Linked DNA regions of Homo sapiens: region 2 is reported to be linked to region 1. Evidence: microRNA targets listed by miRTarBase, many of them from high-throughput screens and not tested one by one. Region 1 holds a microRNA gene; the other region holds the end of a gene's coding sequence.

The links. Region 1 holds the annotated microRNA hsa-miR-6505-3p (UGACUUCUACCUCUUCCAAAG, at 2,776-2,796, shown strand). A microRNA usually pairs through its seed, bases 2 to 8, with sites in the 3' UTR of a target mRNA and lowers its output. Matches are read on the target gene's strand: a 7mer-m8 pairs with bases 2 to 8, a 7mer-A1 pairs with bases 2 to 7 and ends in A, and an 8mer does both.
Region 2: the mRNA of BMAL1 is a reported target of hsa-miR-6505-3p. Seed matches in the 3' UTR shown: 7mer-m8 at 1,112-1,118.

The regions. Positions count from the first base shown.
Region 1 is chr12:48,130,072-48,135,477 of GRCh38, forward strand. MIR6505 (microRNA 6505) reads left to right here and starts at 2,726; the gene lies at 2,726-2,796. It overlaps PFKM (phosphofructokinase, muscle), which reads left to right. Exons shown (of 23, transcript NM_000289.6): 3 at 292-365; 4 at 1,245-1,322; 5 at 2,797-2,986; 6 at 3,244-3,409; 7 at 4,161-4,205; 8 at 4,650-4,758; 9 at 4,872-4,967; 10 at 5,220-5,312.
Region 2 is chr11:13,386,006-13,391,411 of GRCh38, forward strand. It overlaps BMAL1 (basic helix-loop-helix ARNT like 1), which reads left to right. Exons shown (of 20, transcript NM_001297719.2): 20 at 591-1,261. The coding sequence ends at 751. It overlaps BTBD10 (BTB domain containing 10), which reads right to left. Exons shown (of 9, transcript NM_032320.7): 9 at 2,003-3,136. The coding sequence ends at 2,826. Among named protein-coding and RNA genes, the nearest start is that of BTBD10, 75 kb to the right of the region's middle.

The sequences.
Region 1 (5,406 bases):
TTGTTATTGTTTCCCAGATGGTCCTATCAAGGAAAGGTCTTGGGAAAGGCAGGATTTTGGGGGGGCTTGAGGAGCAATGAATGCAGATTATCTGAAGCTCCAGTAACATTGACTGCAGTAATTGGGAGTGGGGAGGCCAGAAGACTTTGATGAGAGGATTATTCTAGATTCAGAGAAAAGACTAAATAAAGTACTGATTCGTTATCTTTAGCCAAATGTAATATCTCTGGATTCCAGGGCGCCTTTTCTTAGGAGCAACCTCTCCGTGACTTCTTTTGTCCCTCCTTTCAGGTATGAATGCTGCTGTCAGGGCTGTGGTTCGAGTTGGTATCTTCACCGGTGCCCGTGTCTTCTTTGTCCATGAGGTTGGTTCTGTACTTTGTTCTTCATCATTCTTTCTCTGTCTTCTTCTAAATCTGCCTTCTATCCCCTTCCCACATTCTGTGTCCTTACCTCCCAGTTAGTTACATTGCTGTGTTTGATTTTCCTTGACTCCGTAGCTTCATGAGTCACTCTTTCCTACTTGACTCCAATAGTGATGGTGGGACCTGAGCATCTACAAACTGGGTCTTCATGTTGCCTGTTCAATTTAAAGGAAAAAGTAACTCTCAGTCCTCCTTTTATCTCCCTCAAAACAGAGAAAGAAATGGAAATGGGTAGTATTTACAGCAAATTTAGTATATCCAGAGGAAGAGCCCCAGGAGAAAAGAGACTTGCTGCATTTCTGTAGTTTGCATAACTTTCTGAGGTTCTCAAATCTTCTTTTGCACCCTTCTCCCAGTACCCTCTCATGCTTCACCCACTCTTCTTTTTATAAGGTCCACCTGCTTTCTTGTATCAGATTTTATAATCTTTTAGAGCAAGTCGCGTTTCTTTCCTTCCCTCCCACCAACTTCCCCTTCTCCTTTTCTCCATGGTTATCAAGACCATCTGTTATCATTGGCCCCCTAGGAAGCAGGTTGGAGGAGATAGGATGAGCCAAAAATAAGAATTAAGATTAACTATTAGGAAGGATATCCACATCCCAGTATTTCAAAAATGGGAGAAAGTAGAAGAGAGTATTGCAAAAGTTGATGCCTCCTTCTTTGGACTGTGTTAAATATGATAGTCTCACGAGCATCCAGGACTCACTAATGGGAGGAGGTGGCTTGACTCTCAGAGAATCTCTTCCCAGGGATCCTGTCTTAATCTTGGGAATTTATAGAGAAGCCTAACGGGCTGAACAGGTATAATGTGTCACACAGGGTTATCAAGGCCTGGTGGATGGTGGAGATCACATCAAGGAAGCCACCTGGGAGAGCGTTTCGATGATGCTTCAGCTGGTATGTTCCAGAGAACTCCCTGTCCCATATTTGCTCTGTCCTTGTTTCATCCCACTCTGTTTTGGGCTCATGGTCTCCTAAATTCCCTGTCATGTGGTTTCATGGGAAGGAATTCAGTGACAAGAGAGGGACCCTATTTGCCCTTTACTCTTAGCATTTGAAAATACCACCCTGGTTTCCTGGGGCAGGGAGAGGGTGGAGGAGTGATCACAGGATGCTTTGCTCTTTATGGAAAGGTCATAAACAAGACTATGGGGACTGACACATAAGCAGATCTTACTCTAGGGTCACAGGGAAGGTCTGGCCCTGAAAATAACCTTACCAGAGGACTGGAGCCAGAGCCAGAAGTGGAGCTGAAATCTGCCAGTCCTCATGTGATGGAGATGAGGTGACCTGAAACCAGACCACTTAAAGGACGAAGGAACTGAGACAGCCTTTCGGAGTCTCAAAAAAATCCTAAGAGTATCCTGAGGATTTCCACAGTCCTTTATGCTACTTGCTCCATGTTGTTTTAGGCTTCTCATGTGTATCCACTGTGGGCTAGCCCACAGTGAGTGAGAGAAATACAATCATTTGCTGGTTTACTGAAAATTTGTAAATTACATTTGTATCCCCCTTTTTTCAGCTCAGTTCCCTAAAAATCCATGGGCAAAAATTTAATATGCAGTGTCTAGTGAAGGCTCTACCTAGGTGCTAAGTAATGGTGCCTGCCATAAAGTGGTCTGAGAATGAGCCAGAATTCTCCACCAGTATCCCAAAGTCATGGCTGCCCAGGAGTACATATGATATGAAAACCTAAGTATACTTACCTCTCTCAGGTAAGTATACTTTCTCTCAGGGATAGAAAGCCTTAATTTCCCAGGGACTTATAGATACCTCTCTTGGGGTATCTATAAGGCTTTCTTTACCTAGAGCTATTTTTCCTGTGAATACCTGGATATTGCAGCTTCTGCTGCTAGCACCATGGATTGCAAGGAGCTAAGGGGAAAGGATTGGCAGTACCTGGGTACAGTTAGAAATCTCAGTGCAGAGAGAGGAAAAATACTACAAAACACATTGGGATGAACTCCTAATAATAATTTGGACACAATCCAGTAATGTCAGGCCATTAGGGAGAATTTCTAAAGACTGAAGTCACTGCTTCTAAGATGTGAAAGTTGGAGATTATTTGAGAAGCCAACATACATGTATGTATTCACTTGTTCTCTTTAGGATAGTCATGGATGACAAAGCCTTCAATGAAAGGAGTTCTTAGCAGTCTTCTCAGATGTGTAGCAAAATATGGGAATGACCCTATGATGCCTCAGCCAGCATCATTTCCCTTTCCTTTGGAAGGGACAGATCACTCTTAAGGATGTCAAGGAACTTTCTAGGGAGTCACACAGTTATGTTAGGCCATCACAGCATTGGAATAGGGGATATCTCAGCATGTTGAGCCCTGTCTCTGGGGAGCTGACTTCTACCTCTTCCAAAGGGAGGCACGGTGATTGGAAGTGCCCGGTGCAAGGACTTTCGGGAACGAGAAGGACGACTCCGAGCTGCCTACAACCTGGTGAAGCGTGGGATCACCAATCTCTGTGTCATTGGGGGTGATGGCAGCCTCACTGGGGCTGACACCTTCCGTTCTGAGTGGAGTGACTTGTTGAGTGACCTCCAGAAAGCAGGTAAGAGAGTTTTCACATCAGTATTGCTTATTTGTGTCGGTACGTGCACGCGTGTACACACACACATCGCCCCCGCCCTGCTTTTACCTCCCATTGGAGAAAAATGTTACCCAGACACAAATAGGCAGTCTTTGCCCTCCTTTTTCTGGTATTGTCTACAATTCCTTTTGGCTAGAGTTTCTCTCTCTCTAGATATCTCCTCTTTAGGCATGCCAGGTGCCTCACCCAGTGGCTCCTGGTTTGCTTCTCATTGTCAGGTAAGATCACAGATGAGGAGGCTACGAAGTCCAGCTACCTGAACATTGTGGGCCTGGTTGGGTCAATTGACAATGACTTCTGTGGCACCGATATGACCATTGGCACTGACTCTGCCCTGCATCGGATCATGGAAATTGTAGATGCCATCACTACCACTGCCCAGAGGTAAGGGGACTTGGGAGGTAGGCAGTGTAAGAAGATGGCAGCTAGGACAGGCTAAAGGGCTAGAAGCTCCTGAAGACTAAAGCGTTTGAGCTATGGTGACTATAATGGCCAGTTTTCTGGGGCTAGAACACTATTTTTAACGAAAAATTATCTAGAGCACTGAAATTGCACTGTTCCCTTAATGATATATGATTTGTCTTTTGCCACTGTCTGGCCCACTGTCCAAATATGCAGCTCTGAGGTCTTTCATATCATTGGGGTAAATGGTTATTCTTCAGACTGGGCAAATCTAGGGAGCCCAGACATGAGCTACGCTTTCCAACCATATCATAGAAAGTATAGGTGCTGCTATGACCACGACAGCTCAGAGATAAGGGGACCTGGGGGGAGGCAATGTAGGATGGGAGGATAGAAGGGTAACAGTTTACCCCAGGGTAATCCTAAAGGATTCCAGTTAGTCCAATTCTCCCTTCACTTCTTATCCTTTCCTTTCCTTCCCTTCCCTGACCCGGTTCCTCCCTGGAACAGAGCCTCTGTTTAGACACTTTTTACTGCTGTGTTTTCTCAGGCCTAGGAAGGATACCTTGTGGCTAAAGTATTTCCCCTAGGTCTTCCTGGTCTCAGGAAGCCTGCTAGAAGGCCTGGCAGCATACATGTATCTCCCAGAGAGGGTAATTGGCCTAGATGTGGGTGGTGGCTTGATCTTGGCCATAGGGTCACTTGGACTGTGTCATATGTCTATCTCTTGCAGCCACCAGAGGACATTTGTGTTAGAAGTAATGGGCCGCCACTGTGGGTAAGATCCTCATTCTGACCCATTTATTCCGTGGACCTAGCGATAGCCCTTTCCTTTTCCCCAGAGAGTCCAGTGAGGTCTCTCAGTAGCAGCAGATCTGGAGGTGCACATGCTCCTTGTGGTGTGGTTCCCTTTCCGGCCTCCATCCCCTCTGTTACATCCCCACACATGCATGTGTGTACGTGCTCAGGCACGTGCTTGGTGTAAAGAGTGGGTAGTGCTCTGAGGCTGGAAGCCACTGTGGCAGGTGAACATAAATGGAAGGTATCCGTTAGAGACAGAATCTCATTGAGGGGCCCCGGTGCTCTTACCCTTGCCCCACGAATAAAATGGAGGCTCTCCAGACCTTTTATCAACTATGAGGACTAGGAGAACTTGTTGGGTATGGGTGAGGCTATTTGTAGAGTACAACTTCTAGCAGGATGCTTCTGACTCTCATCTCAGATACCTGGCCCTTGTCACCTCTCTGTCCTGTGGGGCCGACTGGGTTTTTATTCCTGAATGTCCACCAGATGACGACTGGGAGGAACACCTTTGTCGCCGACTCAGCGAGGTACTTGCACTTTATTTTGCCCTTAAGAAATCCCTCACCCTGTTCCACTGATGATCTCTTTCCCACCCATCAGCTTCATTCCATGGACCATTTTACCCTTTGTTCTCAACCAGACAAGGACCCGTGGTTCTCGTCTCAACATCATCATTGTGGCTGAGGGTGCAATTGACAAGAATGGAAAACCAATCACCTCAGAAGACATCAAGAATGTTCGTATGAATGAAGCCAGAGAGGCCTTAGAATCCATAGCCCATTCCCTTCTGGCTTCTGAGTCTCCTGACATTGCTTCTCCCCTTGGTCCTTCTGCACATCTCTCCCTGGTTCCCTGCCCCTGATTGCCTCCCACAAAGAACCATTACAAGACAAGAGGCTGAGCTGTCCATGGTTTACCCAAGTCTCTGCTTGTTTTCTTCCTTTGACTCTGCGTAACCCTCTCTCTGTCCCTCTGTTGGTCCCTTCAGCTGGTGGTTAAGCGTCTGGGATATGACACCCGGGTTACTGTCTTGGGGCATGTGCAGAGGGGTGGGACGCCATCAGCCTTTGACAGAATTCTGGTAAGTCACTGGGCTGTGTGGCCCTCATGCCTTGAAACCCTCAACCTTGTAGTCCTGCCCCCTCAGGGCTGCACTTCACCAGACAGGGACTTAC
Region 2 (5,406 bases), not on the chromosome of region 1:
GCTACAGCTACCTAGACATAGGCTTTCTCCCATGTGGGGCATAATCTCTTCAGAGAGAGAAGGCTAATGAAGGTTCAGAGATAATGCCTAGAAGGGTGATTAGTAAGCATATCAGAAGGTATTAAAAGTCATTAAGTGAAAAGAGTTTGCTTTTCCCATCACATCCATCTTTTTCTCCCCTGGGCTTTCTAGATCTGTTTTTTTCCTAAACTCTCCCTTCCTATTTGCCTTTCTTTTTGTAACTCCTCTTAACTGGTTACATCAGATTATTAAAATAAGCTTGACTCAAATATTTTTAACATTTACTAAATTTTAAGCGCTTTGTACTTATTTCTAAAATGATCATTTGATTCCTTAGAGCTGTCTCTTCACAACGTAACCCCACTTATTTCTTACGTATTTTTAAAAAATTGGTTCTTTCCTCTAAAAAACAGCGATATAAAAAAAGATAGCCATGCAGCCCAAAAAGCAGCATCTCACCCTACCATTAAATGTAACTTTCTTATTAAAAATGTGCTTAGGAATTGCTTACTTAATCTGAAGATGCTTTAAAAAAGAAATCACTGACCAGTCTTTATCTCCTCCCACAGGTGAGAACCCCCACATAGGTATAGACATGATTGACAACGACCAAGGATCAAGTAGTCCCAGTAATGATGAGGCAGCAATGGCTGTCATCATGAGCCTCTTGGAAGCAGATGCTGGACTGGGTGGCCCTGTTGACTTTAGTGACTTGCCATGGCCGCTGTAAACACTACATGTTGCTTTGGCAACAGCTATAGTATCAAAGTGCATTACTGGTGGAGTTTTACAGTCTGTGAAGCTTACTGGATAAGGAGAGAATAGCTTTTATGTACTGACTTCATAAAAGCCATCTCAGAGCCATTGATACAAGTCAATCTTACTATATGTAACTTCAGACAAAGTGGAACTAAGCCTGCTCCAGTGTTTCCTCATCATTGATTATTGGGCTAGCTGTGGATAGCTTGCATTAATTGTATATTTTGGATTCTGTTTGTGTTGAATTTTTTAATCATTGTGCACAGAAGCATCATTGGTAGCTTTTATATGCAAATGGTCATTTCAGATGTATGGTGTTTTTACACTACAAAGAAGTCCCCCATGTGGATATTTCTTATACTAATTGTATCATAAAGCCGTTTATTCTTCCTTGTAAGAATCCTTTACTATAAATATGGGTTAAAGTATAATGTACTAGACAGTTAAATATTTTTAATAAATGTTTCCCTTGTTCTATAAATACTGTTCACATTTCAAATAATTAGAAAAAAAATCCTACGTGTTGCAGGGCTGGATTATAAGTTTCTACAGTGGGTGTTCAAGGATGATCTACGCCAGTAGCATTTGTGGTGCTTTTCTGGCCTTCATAACGATTCTGGGCTTGCATAATTTCCCCATGCTACTAGCTTAGCTGTGTTGTTAAAATAGTTCATTTATAAATTGTTGCAATTTTAATTTATGTGAGAACAAAGATGTTACTGCTTATCCACAAACATCGAATCCTCTGAAATTATAAATTCAAGATTATATTTAACAAATTGGCTTCTCTAATGCTGCACCTCTCTAATACTACTTCAGTTATATAGTAAGTGACCCCAGTCCTAAAGCACCTAAATATTTGATCCCTTCTTGAATTGGACCACAGAATATTTAGAATAGCATTTGCATAAATAATTTGCTAAGCAAAGTAGCATGGTATAATGGAAAAAGCACTGAACTAGTATGAGAAACTGGCTCTGAAACTTAGGGTGACTATATGACCTAGTAAAGTCATTTTGCCCTTCATATCAAGTTGGACTAGAAAATACTCTTTTCAGCTCTAATAAATATTGTTTTGATTTATAGTACATTTTATAATTAGGGAATTTAAATGCCTCATCACACATATAGTAAAAGTTCCTTGAGCTACTATTTCTAATAATACTTACACCACCGAGATGGGAAATTATGAGACTAAAAATCTGGTCAATGTGGTTATAAATTTGGTCAGAAACATTAAAACAATGGAATTTTATTTTGATGAAAAACTCAAGTTTACAATCATTTAGTAAATGAAGAGCAAACACTTCATTTTCCTATCCCATAACTCTTAAGAAAAAAAAAGCATTAGTAAATAAATATCTGTGAACAGATTAAGGGTAAGGCAGACTGGATAATAAACCACCTCTGACATTCACACTCCCTGCATGTGACTCACTCTAAAGGGTGAAATGGCTCTGGAGATAACTGAACTGGTAAGATATGGGCATTAAATCTCATCCTGATCATTCAGATAAGCCCAAGATAAATACTTTTTGCTCATCAAGGGCAGCAAACTATACAAATTGTACTGGAGGAATACTTTGACAGAAGCACTTAAATTATATTGTGCATCACAACTATAAAATGGCTTGAACATTTCCATTTAACCACCATTTATAAAGTGCAACTATATATTACTCTGCATTTTATCTGAGGTGTGATGAATATCAGTCCAAACTGAAAGTACCCCAGCTGCCAATTTCCACCACTTCTGAAAAGACCTAGCTGTGTGAAAAAGGACCATCCCCCATACAAAGAACCAATTTCACAAACCTACTGGTAAACAAATACATTTACAACTGGAACTTCAAAATGCTAGAGTTGTACTCATTTAAAAAAAAACCATTCAGCTACCTTTGGTCTTTAAAAAAGCCTACACTGCAATATCCTAAACATTGTTATGTGCATCTCACAATGAAGAAGAGTGGCCTTGCAGTGCAGAATGAGGAGAGTACAACGTCACTGTGAAGAGTAGCATGCTATGGTTTCAAGGAAGATCAGCATCACAGCATTGGATTCTGTGCATCAGGATCGAGGTCACTGTTGCCAGAAGGGGGATGGATAGGGAGAATATCCAGCTCATCCACTTGTGGAGTTGGATGCATGACTACCAGCTGGTCCTGGGGAATGTCTGCTGCAGCTGCTGCAAGATTGGTGATAGATTTACTCTTTACACACTGAAAGTCTACATGCCGACTCTTTCCTTCTTCCTTCTCCCAGGACATTCGAATAAAGGGTCTTTGGACATAGTTGTAGATCACTTCTGGGCGGCCTCCAGGCCTTTTCTTTACTTTTTCTTTGTAGGTAGGATAACCTGAAAGAAAGAAAGATTTTAAAAACTGAGGAGACACACACAGACCTCTCACCCAATTTCGCCTTAGAAAGCTTTTCTGCTATAGATCCTAAAGAAACAAATTTAAAACAAAGAAGTGAAAACAATATTCCATCCACCTACTCATCAGTTCATGAGCCAGACATGAAAACCCTACTGATGTAATTCATAAAATCTTCTATCATTCTTTCAATTACTCAATATATCAACCATCAAAAAAACATTATTAAAGTAGGAGTATGTTGGAGCAGATCTTGGTCTCTAGCTATGTATCCTTTTTTTTTTTTGACATGGAGTCTCACTTTGTCACCCAGGCTGGAGTGCCATGTGTGACCTTGGTTTACTGCAACCTCTGCTTCCCAGGTTCAAGCAATTCTCCCACCTCAGTCTCCAGAGTAGCGCGGATTACAGGCATGTGCCACCATGCCCGGCTAATTTTTGTGTTTTTAGTAGAGGGGGGGTTTCACCACGTTGCCCAGGCTGGTCTCGAACTCCTGACCTCAAGTGATCTGCCTCGGCCTCCCAAATTGCTGGGATTACAGGCGCAAGCCACCATGCCGGCCTCTAGCTACGTATCCTTATATTCTCGTCACAGGATTACCCGGCCTACAGGCCTGGAATTTAGCCACATTAGCCTGCTAGTTTCCTTAAACCTACATCTCGTCTTTATATTGCTCTGAGTTTTTTCTTTTCTTTTTGTTAAATGAAAAAGCTGTACAGCTGTCCAGGTGGTTCTAGATACTTCTGCATCTAGATCAGCAAGGCCAATATTTTAACCTCCCATATCATTTTAACATTACTACTCCCAACAACCAAGCATTCAATTTACAGTCACATTCCCGAAGCAGCGTTCCCTGATTAATAGTACCTAATATTACCTTCCTCTTTTGGAACATAGTCACTTAAAAGTAAGGACAACCCTAGATTTGAAAAAAAAAATTAGTTATTTACTAGTAAGGCCACTTCTCCAAAGATCAACTGTCCTTAAGAAACTATTATAGACCCCTTCCCTCCTTTCTTCTAGTAAGAATTAACTAGTTTGGGATTGGCAAACATTTTCTGTAAAGGTCCAGAGTAAATACTTCAGGCTTGTAGGCCACATGGTTTCTACTAGAGCTACTTTTCACTCTGCCACTGTAAAGTGAAATCAGCCACAGAGAATACGTAAATGAATGAGCACGTGTATGTTTTTCTTTTTTTTTTTTGGAGATAGAGTCTCTGTCACCCAGGCTGGAATGCAGTGGTGCTGTCTCGGCTCACTGCAACTTCTGTCTTCCGGGTTCAAGAGATTCTCCTGCCTCAGCCTCTCGAGTAGCTGGGACTACAGGCGCCTGCCACCACACCTGGCTAATTTTTGTATTGTTGGTAGAGATGGGGTTTCACCATGTTGGCCAGGATGATCTCAAACTCCCGACCTCCAGTGATCCTCGGCTTCCCATAGTGCTGGGATTACAGGTGTGAGCCACTGCGCCCAGCCACATGTGTATGTTTCAATAAAACTTTATAAAAAAGAGGCAATGAGCTGATTTTGGCCCATAGGCCAAAGTTAGACCATAGTTAGAATCAGAAAAAATAGAATGGTCTCACATAGTAGGGGATCAATTAATGATTACTGCATAAGGGAATGCATGTAGGCATCATTGGTAGCTAGTACAAATAGCCATGTGTGGAGTATGTGTGTATGTGGTGGGGGTGAGATAGGTGCAGCAGGTGAACAAAACTGAAAATCTAAAAACCTGTAGAATGTCTTCATTTCATACTTTTGGTCAATTACCTCTGAAGGCAGCACCAGAAATCAGAAAGGTCTCCATCTCCATTCCCTTGTCCTTGATTCCTCCTGGACTATTAGAAAGACTTTAAAATTCCCATCTCCTTGTATTCTGTCCCCACACAAAATAACCACTCCAGACAAATGTAATCATATTACAATCCTTGCTTAAAAACTACCAATGGTTTCCTCGTGCTTAATTGGAAGGTCTGTACTCCTCAGAATATTATACAAGGCTTTTTTTACAGCCTGGTTCCATATCTACTTACTGTCATCTACTATCATGCTACACTCTAACTCTAGAGTTCTTAAATACACCTGCCATATTAAGCTTTCCCCAAACATGCTTTTACACAAATTGTTCTGCTGCCTCTTCCCTCTCAGCCTCCTGATCCCTGCGCTCCACCTTCTTTTATCCCTGGCAAAAACATTAAGACTCTCCACACAGTTAATCATTCACTTCTTATGCTCCATAGCACTCCCA